Regions from separate parts of the Homo sapiens genome. Here region 2 is linked to region 1. The links come from fine-mapping of genetic effects on gene expression. Tissue or cell type: whole blood. Region 1 holds a variant in brackets; the other region holds the start of a gene. Each region is shown on its reference strand, or each on the opposite one.

Evidence for each region.
Region 2: S100A12 starts here. The variant in region 1 is fine-mapped to the expression of S100A12 in whole blood (TOPMed, PIP 0.97).

What each region holds. Positions count from the first base shown.
Region 1 is chrX:53,224,646-53,230,027 of GRCh38, reverse strand. It overlaps KDM5C (lysine demethylase 5C), which reads left to right and starts at 4,821. Exons shown (of 26, transcript NM_004187.5): 1 at 4,821-5,288. The coding sequence starts at 5,139. It also overlaps a transcript of IQSEC2 not described here. RefSeq lists enhancers at 4,500-4,549, 4,427-4,721, 4,560-4,939, 5,180-5,279. The variant T/C (reference allele first, on the strand shown) is at 2,630.
Region 2 is chr1:153,373,245-153,378,626 of GRCh38, reverse strand. It overlaps S100A12 (S100 calcium binding protein A12), which reads left to right and starts at 3,006. Exons shown (of 3, transcript NM_005621.2): 1 at 3,006-3,075; 2 at 4,015-4,172; 3 at 4,660-4,916. The coding sequence starts at 4,035. The coding sequence ends at 4,800.

The DNA of each region.
Region 1 (5,382 bases):
TGGGCACAGCACATGGCACCGCGTGGAGACAGGCGGGTCTCCCCAGCCACTCCCTGTTACTCTGTTGCCAACAGATTTGTCACGCTGGCCTCAGCAGCAGCTAAAGTAAGACCAGATAACAAATTGGGCTATCTAGTACCTGCACTGTAAAGTTACCACTTTCCCCGTTGTAGTGGATGAGTATCTTGTGGAGACATGAATGGAAATGTTGTTACTCCTTAAATTTTACTCACTAGTTTTAGCGTTCGCTGGAACAATTATTATGGCTGAGGCTGTCAAATGGTGATTTTCAAATGCCGTCATTCTTTCAATATGTCTTTTTTTTTTCTTTTTTGAGACAGGGTCTCATCCATTGCCCAGTGCAGTGGTGCGATCATAGCTCACTGCAGCTTCGAACTCCTGGATTCAAGCGATCCTCCCACCTCAGCCTTCCATGTAGCTGGGACCACAGCCACACACCACCATGCCCAGCTAATTTAAAAATTTTTTGTAGAGATGGAGGTCTTGCTAGGTTACCCAGGCTGGTTTCAAACTCCTGGCCTCAAGCAGTCCTCCCACCTCAGCCTCCCAAAGTGTTGGGACTATAGGCATGAGCCACTGCCCCCAGCCTGGGCATGTCTTAGTTGGCTTTCCACTATAAGGGAGGGCTTTCCCTTCTACATTTATTTATTTATATCCTTATGGACTTAATGATTGTTTATTTTACTCAATGGGTTATATATAACCCATTAACATCATTCTTTATTTTGATGTTCACAGCCCCAGATTTGGCCAGTAGGAAGCCCTCTAAGCCCCTGTGTCCTGTGGCACATCTCCATCTTTTTCTGAGCCCTTCCAAGGAGCCCCGGTTCTTTTTAGTAGAGAATGACATTTAGAAACCAAGATTTGGGCACTAGGTGTTACAGCAATATTTTAAGAGCTTGCTCTTTTATTTTGCAAAGGTTTGAGCATCCATTGATGATTTCTAGCTCCATCATTCCTTCTATATAATTTAGAATTCTACTTTCCCTTTTCTCTCACTTTATTTACTTATATCAATGTGGAGTCATGGATTTTTATTTTAACCAGTGAGTTGTAATCCACTACTATCATAATTCATTTTGAATTAACATTACTTTGGATAAATCATTTTATTGTTATGTATATGTATAAGCACATACTATACATCTATATTTCTATACTAGACATCGATATTTCTCTGTCTCTGTCTAATAAACCATGAGTTCACACAGATACCTTGAGGAGGCTCTTTTAAGAGTCCAGGCTAGAGACAGTAAAAGGCTCACAGGAGGAGTGGAAGATGGCAAGGAGGAGGGGATGGATTCTAGAGCTATTTAGGAATCAGAACCAACAGCTTAAACCTACTTCAGAACTGGAAGAGATCATATTTTACAAACCAAAAAAAGTGAGACACAAAGTCAGTGTCAGCCCAGTTGATCCACAAAACATGAATGGGGTGCGTGTGGTTTTGAGCCCAGACGAGCCTTCCAGTCACTGCTCTGCACCAACTCCATGTCAGACCCTGTCTCCCGGGTGGATGGGTGAGGCCAAGCCAGCCCCCAGCCTGGAGTGAGTTTCCTGATGCATCCCAATTCTTAAGTCCCCAGCGTCTAGACTCCGGTTGTCCCCCAGCAAGACCCATGGCTTGGGGAACAAACCCATTTCCTGAATGCCTTACTACATGGGGAGCACCATCTGAGACTCTTACAGGCAGAATTGTACGGCAGTCAGACAGACCTGGGTTTGAGTTCTGGTCCTGCCACTTACTAGCCATGTGACTTGAGTAAGTTTACACTTCCCTGAGCTTCAGTTTCCTCATCTGTAGGATGGGGATAACAATACCTACTTCATAGCACCTGGCCCTTGATGAATGGCAGTCATCATTATCTCTAATCCTCCTAACAACACTGTGAGGAAGGGATTATTTAGCTTCATTATACAAAGGAGAAAATCAAGGCTCAGGAAGATGAGGTACTTGGCAGATCTCAGTGGGTGCATGTCAGCTCCAGGAAAGTAGAGACTACATCTGTCTTGGTCACCATTATATTCCCAGTGCCCAGAAAATTTGCTGGTGCATAGTAGAAATTTAATAAATATTTGTAAACGAATAAATTCTATCTCATTGGCTTCAAAGACTACATAATTTCTATTTAATCTTCTAGGACGGGTGTGTCTGGGCTAAAGGACCTCAAAGAAGGCTGTAGGAAGACTGTGCAGAGCTGAGACCCAAAATCTGGCCTCCTGATTCCTGATTCATGCTCTTTGTACTTCCTTGAGCCTCTAGATGGAAAGGCTGAACTTCCTTCGGCCTAAGATCTACCGTATTCTCCCACCTTCTAGATTCTCCTCACCCTTCTCTGGCCAGGCCTCTGCCTCCTTTTCATCTGTTTCTTCCACGCACCACCACCACTACCACCATCACGGTCACAGCCACGGTGGCCTGGGGGTGCTGCCCGATGGGCAGTCCAAGCTCCAGGCCCTGCATGCCCCATATTGCCAAGGACTGGGCCCTGCCCCACCACTCTACCTCCCACCCCAGCAGCTCCCTTTTCCCTCACCTCCTCCACTCCTGGTGAGGGCAAACGACAGGAAGAGCATTTGACCAGAGTCAGCAACTTCCTGTGTATCA[T/C]TGGGCAAGTTGTTTAATCTTTCTGGAACTTGGTTCCTCATCTACAGACTGGGTAAATTCACCTACATCTTTCTGAAGACTGTTGCAAAGATTAAGGGAAATAATTGGTATGAACTAGCCATGTAGGCAATTAGATGCTTATCCATGTGAGAGGCTAGTGATATTACTGTGATTAGCATCACTTTGCCTAGTTTTCCTGCTTCCTGTCCAGACAGCTGTTCAGTTGGATCATCCACCTGTGTTTCTGGTGGAGAGGGGCTGAGGTTTCCCCTGACACCTAGAAAACTAGAAAGATGTCACTTAATATCTGTGTCACTTGGGACAAGTCTCCACACGAGCCAAGTGGGGATAAAGATCTTGAACATTCAAGGTAATATAAGGATTCAGGTGATAAAAAAAAAAATACAAAAGCACTAGCACAGTGTCTGACACAAAGGAGATTCTTAATGAGTTTTGGCATATTGGTTGTTGACTCTCAGAAATAAAAATAACAGCTACCAGATACTGAGGGCCTGCTATGTGCCAAGTACACAACAATTCTGCAAGGTATGTATTATCCCCATTTCAGTTACAGAAGTTGGGACTTGTTCAAGGTTACAAACTAGAAAATGGCAGAGCTGGTGGGACTGCAAGGCATGACTCTTTTGAGCCCAGGGCATGAGCTCCTTCCTACCTGTGTGCCCTGTTCCCTCAGCCAGGATGTCCTTAGCTCAGTCCTGAAGTAGGCAGGATGGACCTAATTGGCACAGTATCTGATTAGGAACAGTTAACTGCACGAAGGTATGACACTCCCTATCTGCCTCGAGCTTACAGTGGATGTTTAATATGTTAAACAGGAAATGTTTGCAAAAAGTATTCATATTTTTCAGTCAATATATACTAAGGACATTTATTCATTTTTCTTTTGTTTACTCAACATTCATTTACTGCTTAACATGCCAAGTGCTAAGGATGTATAAGGCCACATGGTCCCTGCCCTTAAGGAATTCATAGTCTGATGGGGGAAAACAAAATTACTTAATCAGCATGTACGCAAGTACTCAAATATTTGCACAGTAGGTGTTCAAACTATATGCAGTAGGTCCACAGCTGATGAATGACACAGATGATCCTCCAATCAGTAGATGCCTGATGTATATGTACAAAGTACTGGTTTGATGATACTCATTCAAAGTACTGTAGTTGCAATGAACCTATTCAGAAACTGCTCAAGGAACATGCACACGATAGGACTAAATGTACATACAGTTGGTACCAAATGCACAGGGGCTATACACAATAAATACAATAAAAGTACACGGATGTTTGGTAAGTGCACTGTAGGCTCACAAATGGGCAAACAGGTGTTTTACACAGTTGACACTGGATAAATACGCCGTTGCTAAACATCCAATAGTTAAAGTATACATACACACAGGCTTATTTTGTAGGAGTATATGCCACAAATGTGTACATGGTAAAAGTGAATACAGAACAGTTGAAAGCGTTCATTAAAATGCTGACTCCCAGTGACTTTTGGGGGGTAAGAATCGAAACCCCATCTCTCTACCTGTAACCTTGGATGAAATAAAGATTTCCTTCCTTTACTTGGGACTCAGAATCCTAAAAATCCATAATCCCCGGGGAGTGAGCAGCTTCCTGCCTTCCTTATTTCAAAGCCCCAGAGGTGTCAGTGTCTAGAGCTGGAGCCTAGTACATCTCCCCCCATCCCGCGGGCCAGCATAAGGGGTCCTTTGCAATCAGGCTCCCAGAGCCGCCTTCCGCGGCCCATACCGTTAAGACCAGGGAGAAGGGACAGAGAACACTGGTGCGGGGCTAGCGACCTGGTTGAGGTCTGCGGGGGAGTGCCGGTTTGACTCCACCACCCACGGACACCAGCTCCTCTTCCGGTCTCCATAACGCGCATGCGCATCACTGGCCTTTAAACGTGCACCGCCGGTCCATCCGGAAAGACGATCCGGCAAACTAATTACAATCTTGTTCCTCCGCCGTTGCAATGAACTATTTTCTCTCAGTCCGGGGTGGTACTTTTGAGTAACCCCTTCCAAATAGAAACCCATACCAGCCTATTTAGCTCGGTCTCCACTATATGAAGGTTTCCTAGGGCTTGGTGTGACGCAACGTATACGAGGCTCGGAAGGACACCCCGCGGAAGGATCCGGTTTGTTGTGGTGTGGGGAGGGGAGACGCTGACAAACCAAGATGGCGGCGGCGGCGCTGAAGGCCGCGGCGTTTGGGAGGTAACTGTGGTGGCGAAGGCTGCGGTAGTGGGGAGGCAACCACACAGTTTGGAAGAAACGGAGCGGGACGAAGAGGCGGTAGCAGTAGAGTCAGCCTGAGACTCTCAGAGCACGACGGCCACACGCCCCCTTAGGCCCTCGGCGGGCGGCGGCTGCCCCGCTTAGGGCCTAGCCTCCGAGCATTGCCTCGGCTTCAAACAGCGGCGGCGCCATGAGTCCTTAAGGGCGGTCCAAGCCTCCCGATCCCTGGCCCAGACCTCGGGCCCACCATGGAGCCGGGGTCCGACGATTTCCTACCGCCACCGGAGTGCCCGGTGTTCGAGCCTAGCTGGGCCGAGTTCCGAGACCCTCTTGGCTACATCGCGAAAATCAGGCCCATCGCAGAGAAATCGGGCATTTGCAAGATCCGCCCACCCGCGGTAAGCCCCGGGGCCGGTTTTCGCCGGCGGCGAGACGGAATGAAGCAGTAGGATAGCCAGCGGCGAAGTCTGGGGCGGAGGGCAGCTCGAGGTG
Region 2 (5,382 bases), not on the chromosome of region 1:
GAAAAAAAAAATTCCCTCTTAACACTACTTTTGCTACATTCCAGATGTTTTGATATGTTGTGTTGTGTCTCTATTTTTGTATGTTTCAAAGAATTTTTTGATTTCTGCCTTAATTTTGTTGTTTAACCAAAAGTCAGGAACAAGTTGTTTAGTTTCCATTTATTTGTGTGGTTTTGAGAGTTCCTCTTGGTATTGATTTCTATTTTTATTCCACTGCGGTCCAAGATTCTTGGTATGATTTTGATTTTTTTGAATTTATTGAGATTTGCCTTATGACTGAGCATGTGGTTGATCTTAGAGTATGTTCCATGTGCAGATGAAAATAATATATATTCTGTGGTTGTTGGGTGCATTGTTCTATAGATGTCTATTAAGTCTAATTGGTCAAGTGTCAAATTTAAGTCCATAATTTCTTTGTTAGTTTTCTGCCTTGATGATTTGTCTACTGATGTCAGTGGGGTGTTGTCCCCTGCTATTATTGTGTGGCTGCCAAAATCTTTTCTTAGATGCAGAAGTACTTATTTTATAAATCTGGGTGCTCCAGTGTTGGGTGTGTATTTATTTAGGATGGTTAAATTTTCTTGTTAAATCGAACCCTTTATCACTATGTAATGCCCTTCTTTATCCTTTTTTACTGTTGTTGGCTTACAGTCTATCGGATCTGATTCAAGAATAGCAACCTCTGCTCTTTTTTGTTTTCTGTTTGCATGATAGATCTTTCTCCATCCCTTTACTTTGAATCTACAGGTGTCATTACACATGAGACAGGTGCTTGAAGACAGCAGAAGGATGGGTCTTGTTTTTAAATCGAATTTGCCAAGGTATGTGTTTTAAGTGCAGTGTTTAGGCCATTCACATTGGAGGTTAATATTTGTATGTGAGGCTGTGTTCCTGCTTTTTTGATTTCTATTTTTTTTTTTTGAGAGGGAGTCTCACTCTGTTGCCCAGGCTGGAGTGCAGTGGCGCGATCTCGGTTCACTGCAAGCTCCGCCTTGTGGGTTCACGCCATTCTCCTGCCTCAGCCTCCTGAGTATCTGGGACTACAGGTGCCTGCCACCATGCCTGGCTAATTTTTTGTATTTTTAGTAGAGATGGGGTTTCACCATCTTAGCCAGGATGGTCTCGATCTCCTGACCTCGTGATCCGCATTTAGCAACCTCTTGCCTGGATGGCTGGGATCCTGGGCTAGTCCCTTCTCCAGGCAGATGTGAAAAAAAAAAAACATCTCAGGATCCCAAACTTACTAAGCCAGAGGGAAAAGTCAAGCTGGGAAATGGGTCATGCAAGCCTGCCCCCACCCAGGTTGGTTTCTAAATAAGATAGCTACAAAGATAAAAAGCCATACACCAATCTCACAACTTGCCCACAAGGAAATTCCTTGTGAGCCTCAAGATCTTTACCCTAAAACAGTTCTATTGAATTTCACCCTGGCAGTGTAATTGACAGCTTATCTTCACAGGTGTGGGACAAAGGGCAGAACATAAAGTCATCCCTCTGCTCACCCAAGACAAATCCATATCTGATTGCTTCCTCTCCCCTATTTTTGTTATCTTATGTAAAAATGCAGATTCACTGAGCCAGATGAAGGCATAAGTGACTATTTCCTCTACTCCGCTCCCACATGAAAATTGTGTATTCAGTGAAAGATTGATCAAAGACTCAAAAGGATGCAATCACTTGTCTCTTATCTACTGACACATTTAAAAAATATTTCTTCCTCTTCCCCCAATATCCACTGTTTCTCCTTCAAATATTGAAGCCCTCAAAATCATCTTTGGAGAAAGACGTAGACCTACCTCTGGGCACGCATCCTTAACTTTGGCCAAATAAACCTCCTAAAATGATTGAGATTCACCTTGGTCATTGTCATTGATTTACACAAGCCTGATCATCCTGCTCTGGTGGTGTCCTCCTGGGCCTAGTGAAACAAATACTGTCAATGGCTTAACAATGTTGCACTGAGATTGTGTCAGTCAAGGTGACACATGGATCGGAGAGACAGACTTTTGCCTCCAGATCCAGAGAGGTCGGTGGGCACATGAAATGAACTAGCTTTGCTAAGGGGGATATCTGTGTTGTGGGGTAGATGGCAGCACAGGTTCTGGCATGGCCTTGATTGCTCAGCAATCTTATTGACCTCTAGGCATAAACCAAGGGCAGAGTGCTTTTGGATGTCCCTTAGCTTTGGTGCGACATGGGGAATGTACAGATGAGACTTAATCCATTTTGGGCAGGTTTCTGAATCTTGAAGGACCACCTCTCCATGAATCCTGGGCATCTGTTGTCCCTTGCTGCCTCTCTGTGAGTAATAAAGTTGCTTTACTAAAACTCGTGTGAATGTTCTGTCTTACTGAACTCATGAACATGGTAAAGTAACCTAGGCATGGTGAACTTTCTTCACACACAATGATTACCCTACTCCAGCTTTCTAGGTCTTTGTAACAGCCAAGTTAGAAAGTTGGGAAAGCAAAGGGGAGGCATAGTAGCATTGCTCTCTCCTTTTTTGAAAACCTTGGAATCTATTTTGAAAACTGATCCTCTGCTCCAGTGATGAACTTTGCATCCCAGAACGACTTAGGAGGAGGTCTCCCTACCTATCTCCTTAGCTGCATAAAGATCTTTAAGTTGATATTCCATTTGCCAAAACTGAAGAGCTGGTAACCTCATCTGTTAAAACAAGACACTCAGGCTGTAAAGTTTGTTCTCCTAGTCTTTTATTAGGGAGCAGTGGAGTAGAGCTAAACCTGAAACCTGGGCCCTGGCTCAGGGCTAAAAAAGGTTCAGGGCACCCCTGTGCGGGTGGGTGGAGTGGGGGTGATTTTGTTTCAGGCTGAGCAGGAGGGCAAAATTCAGTCTGGGTACAATCTGGGCTGCTCCTGTGGCAGCCTAAGCCACAGGTTTGAAGCTTCTATTGAGCAACAGAGTACTTTACATAAATTGCCTCAAGATGAATCAGAGATTTCTTCACCCAAGGGCTAAGATGAAGCCTGAACTGATTATAAAACCTTCCTTGGCTCAGTGCCCTTCACCACTGCTGGCTTTTTGCTGTAGCTCCACATTCCTGTGCATTGAGGGGTAAGTGCATTTTCCTTGGATGGGTTCTTAGGTGGTCCACAGGGTAGTGACTGCAGGTGACCACTTTGAAATCACAAGGTGTTGGAAACCACAACCCTCCACTTGCCTGAGCACCTCTGGGGTGATATTGCATTTTGGACCCAAGTAGATCAGCTCTTGTTGTGCTATGTAGACTCAGTCCCATGATTTAAGAATGGCTAAGCAGGCCGGGTACGGTGGCTCACGCCTGTAATCCCAGCACTTTGGGAGGCCGAGGCGGGCGGATCATGAGGTGAGGAGATCGAGACCATCCTGGCTAACATGGTGAAACCCCGTCTCTACTAAAAAAATACAAAAAATTAGCCGGGCGTGGTGGCGGGTGCCTGTAGTCCCAGCTACTCGGGAGGCTGGGGCAGGAGAATGGCGTGAACCCGGGAGGCAGAACTTGCAGTGAGCCGAGATCGCCCTACTGCACTCCAGCCTGGGCGGCAGAGTGAGACTCCGTCTCAAAAACAAACAAACAAACAAACAAAAAACCCAAAACAACAACAACAAAAAAAGAATGGCTAAGCAGGGGTGGGTTATGGACCATTTGTGGGGGATATGTGGCCATAGTGCCATCACCTGAGGAAAGCAAACAGCCTGGCCAATCACAGAACCCTTCCCAAGGGACCTTGAGTAAGCAATACCCTCCAAGTTATGCACCCCGGTGGATGAGGTGGTATGGAACATGGGCAACTGAGGCTGATTTTTTTAGACGTTAGACAGTATTATATGTTTTCTCCTCCCCATCCTATCCACACATGAGAAGTTCACCATGGATCAAACAGAGCAGAGACCACAAAATAGATATGGAGGATGTTATGTTTTCTTTAGGCCCTTGATTCAGAAAGAGAGGGGAGAGTGGAGGTTGAGGGGTGGGGGAGAAACTGCCTCTAGACTTCCCTTGTTTCCTTGAAGGTTAACATTAGGCTGGGAAGATGACAAAACTTGAAGAGCATCTGGAGGGAATTGTCAATATCTTCCACCAATACTCAGTTCGGAAGGGGCATTTTGACACCCTCTCTAAGGGTGAGCTGAAGCAGCTGCTTACAAAGGAGCTTGCAAACACCATCAAGGTAGGTGATGCCCCTCTCACTGCAAACTTGCCCATGACCCTGCACTGAGGGGAGTGGCAAGGCCTGGCAGAGGATGGTGGGACAAGGACTGGGGTGGGGTTGGCCCCAGTTTGAGCTCCCAAAGGATGCTCTCCCCGCTGCTGTGGGAGAGGTCCTTTGCTTCCCTCTCTCAATAACTCACTTAAGGCTCTACTCAGTTCCTCTCTCTGAGTCTGTTTCCTCATATGTAAAATGGAGAGAGGCAGGGCACGGGAGGGGTTGAATGAGTGAGCAGAAGAGTACCTTCCAGGTCAAGCCTTGTTAATTCCAGGGTGGTTCATGACCATTGTGTTCTCTGTTTTGTTACACTGGATTCTCCAACACAGTGTTGGCTAATGAGTTAATGTGCCTGGGCCTTCACAACCCGAGCTCTGAGGGATAAGAGGCCTAAGAAAGGGTCTTGTGTGGAGGTTCTGAACTCAAGGTCTCTGTTGTCCTTTTTTCCTAGAATATCAAAGATAAAGCTGTCATTGATGAAATATTCCAAGGCCTGGATGCTAATCAAGATGAACAGGTCGACTTTCAAGAATTCATATCCCTGGTAGCCATTGCGCTGAAGGCTGCCCATTACCACACCCACAAAGAGTAGGTAGCTCTCTGAAGGCTTTTTACCCAGCAATGTCCTCAATGAGGGTCTTTTCTTTCCCTCACCAAAACCCAGCCTTGCCCGTGGGGAGTAAGAGTTAATAAACACACTCACGAAAAGTTCTGAATAGTGTCTGTGAACTTTTTTCTTTCCATGCCTGCGGTTCCCAAACTTGATCACACCTTACCCCTGCTCTTCTGGCAGTCTGATTTAGATCCCTTAGAACTCCTGCCCCATTTGTTCATTTGATCACCAATTATTTATTTATCGAATTATTTATTGAATGTCCACCATTCATTCATTCATTCACTCACTCAACAAATATTCTCTGAGCATCAGAGACCAAAGACACAAAGTCCTTGTCCTCTTAGAGCTTGCATATTATTTGGGAGAGAATAGAAAATAAATAAATAGACAAGCAAATAAAAATATATTGTATGGCTGGCCATCATGGCATGTGCCTGTAGTTCCAGTACTCAGGAGGCTGGGGCGAGAGGATTGCTTGAGTCCAAGAGTTTGAGGCCGTAGTGTGCTATGATTACACTTGTGAATAGCTATTGCATTCCAGCCTGGGCAACATAGAAA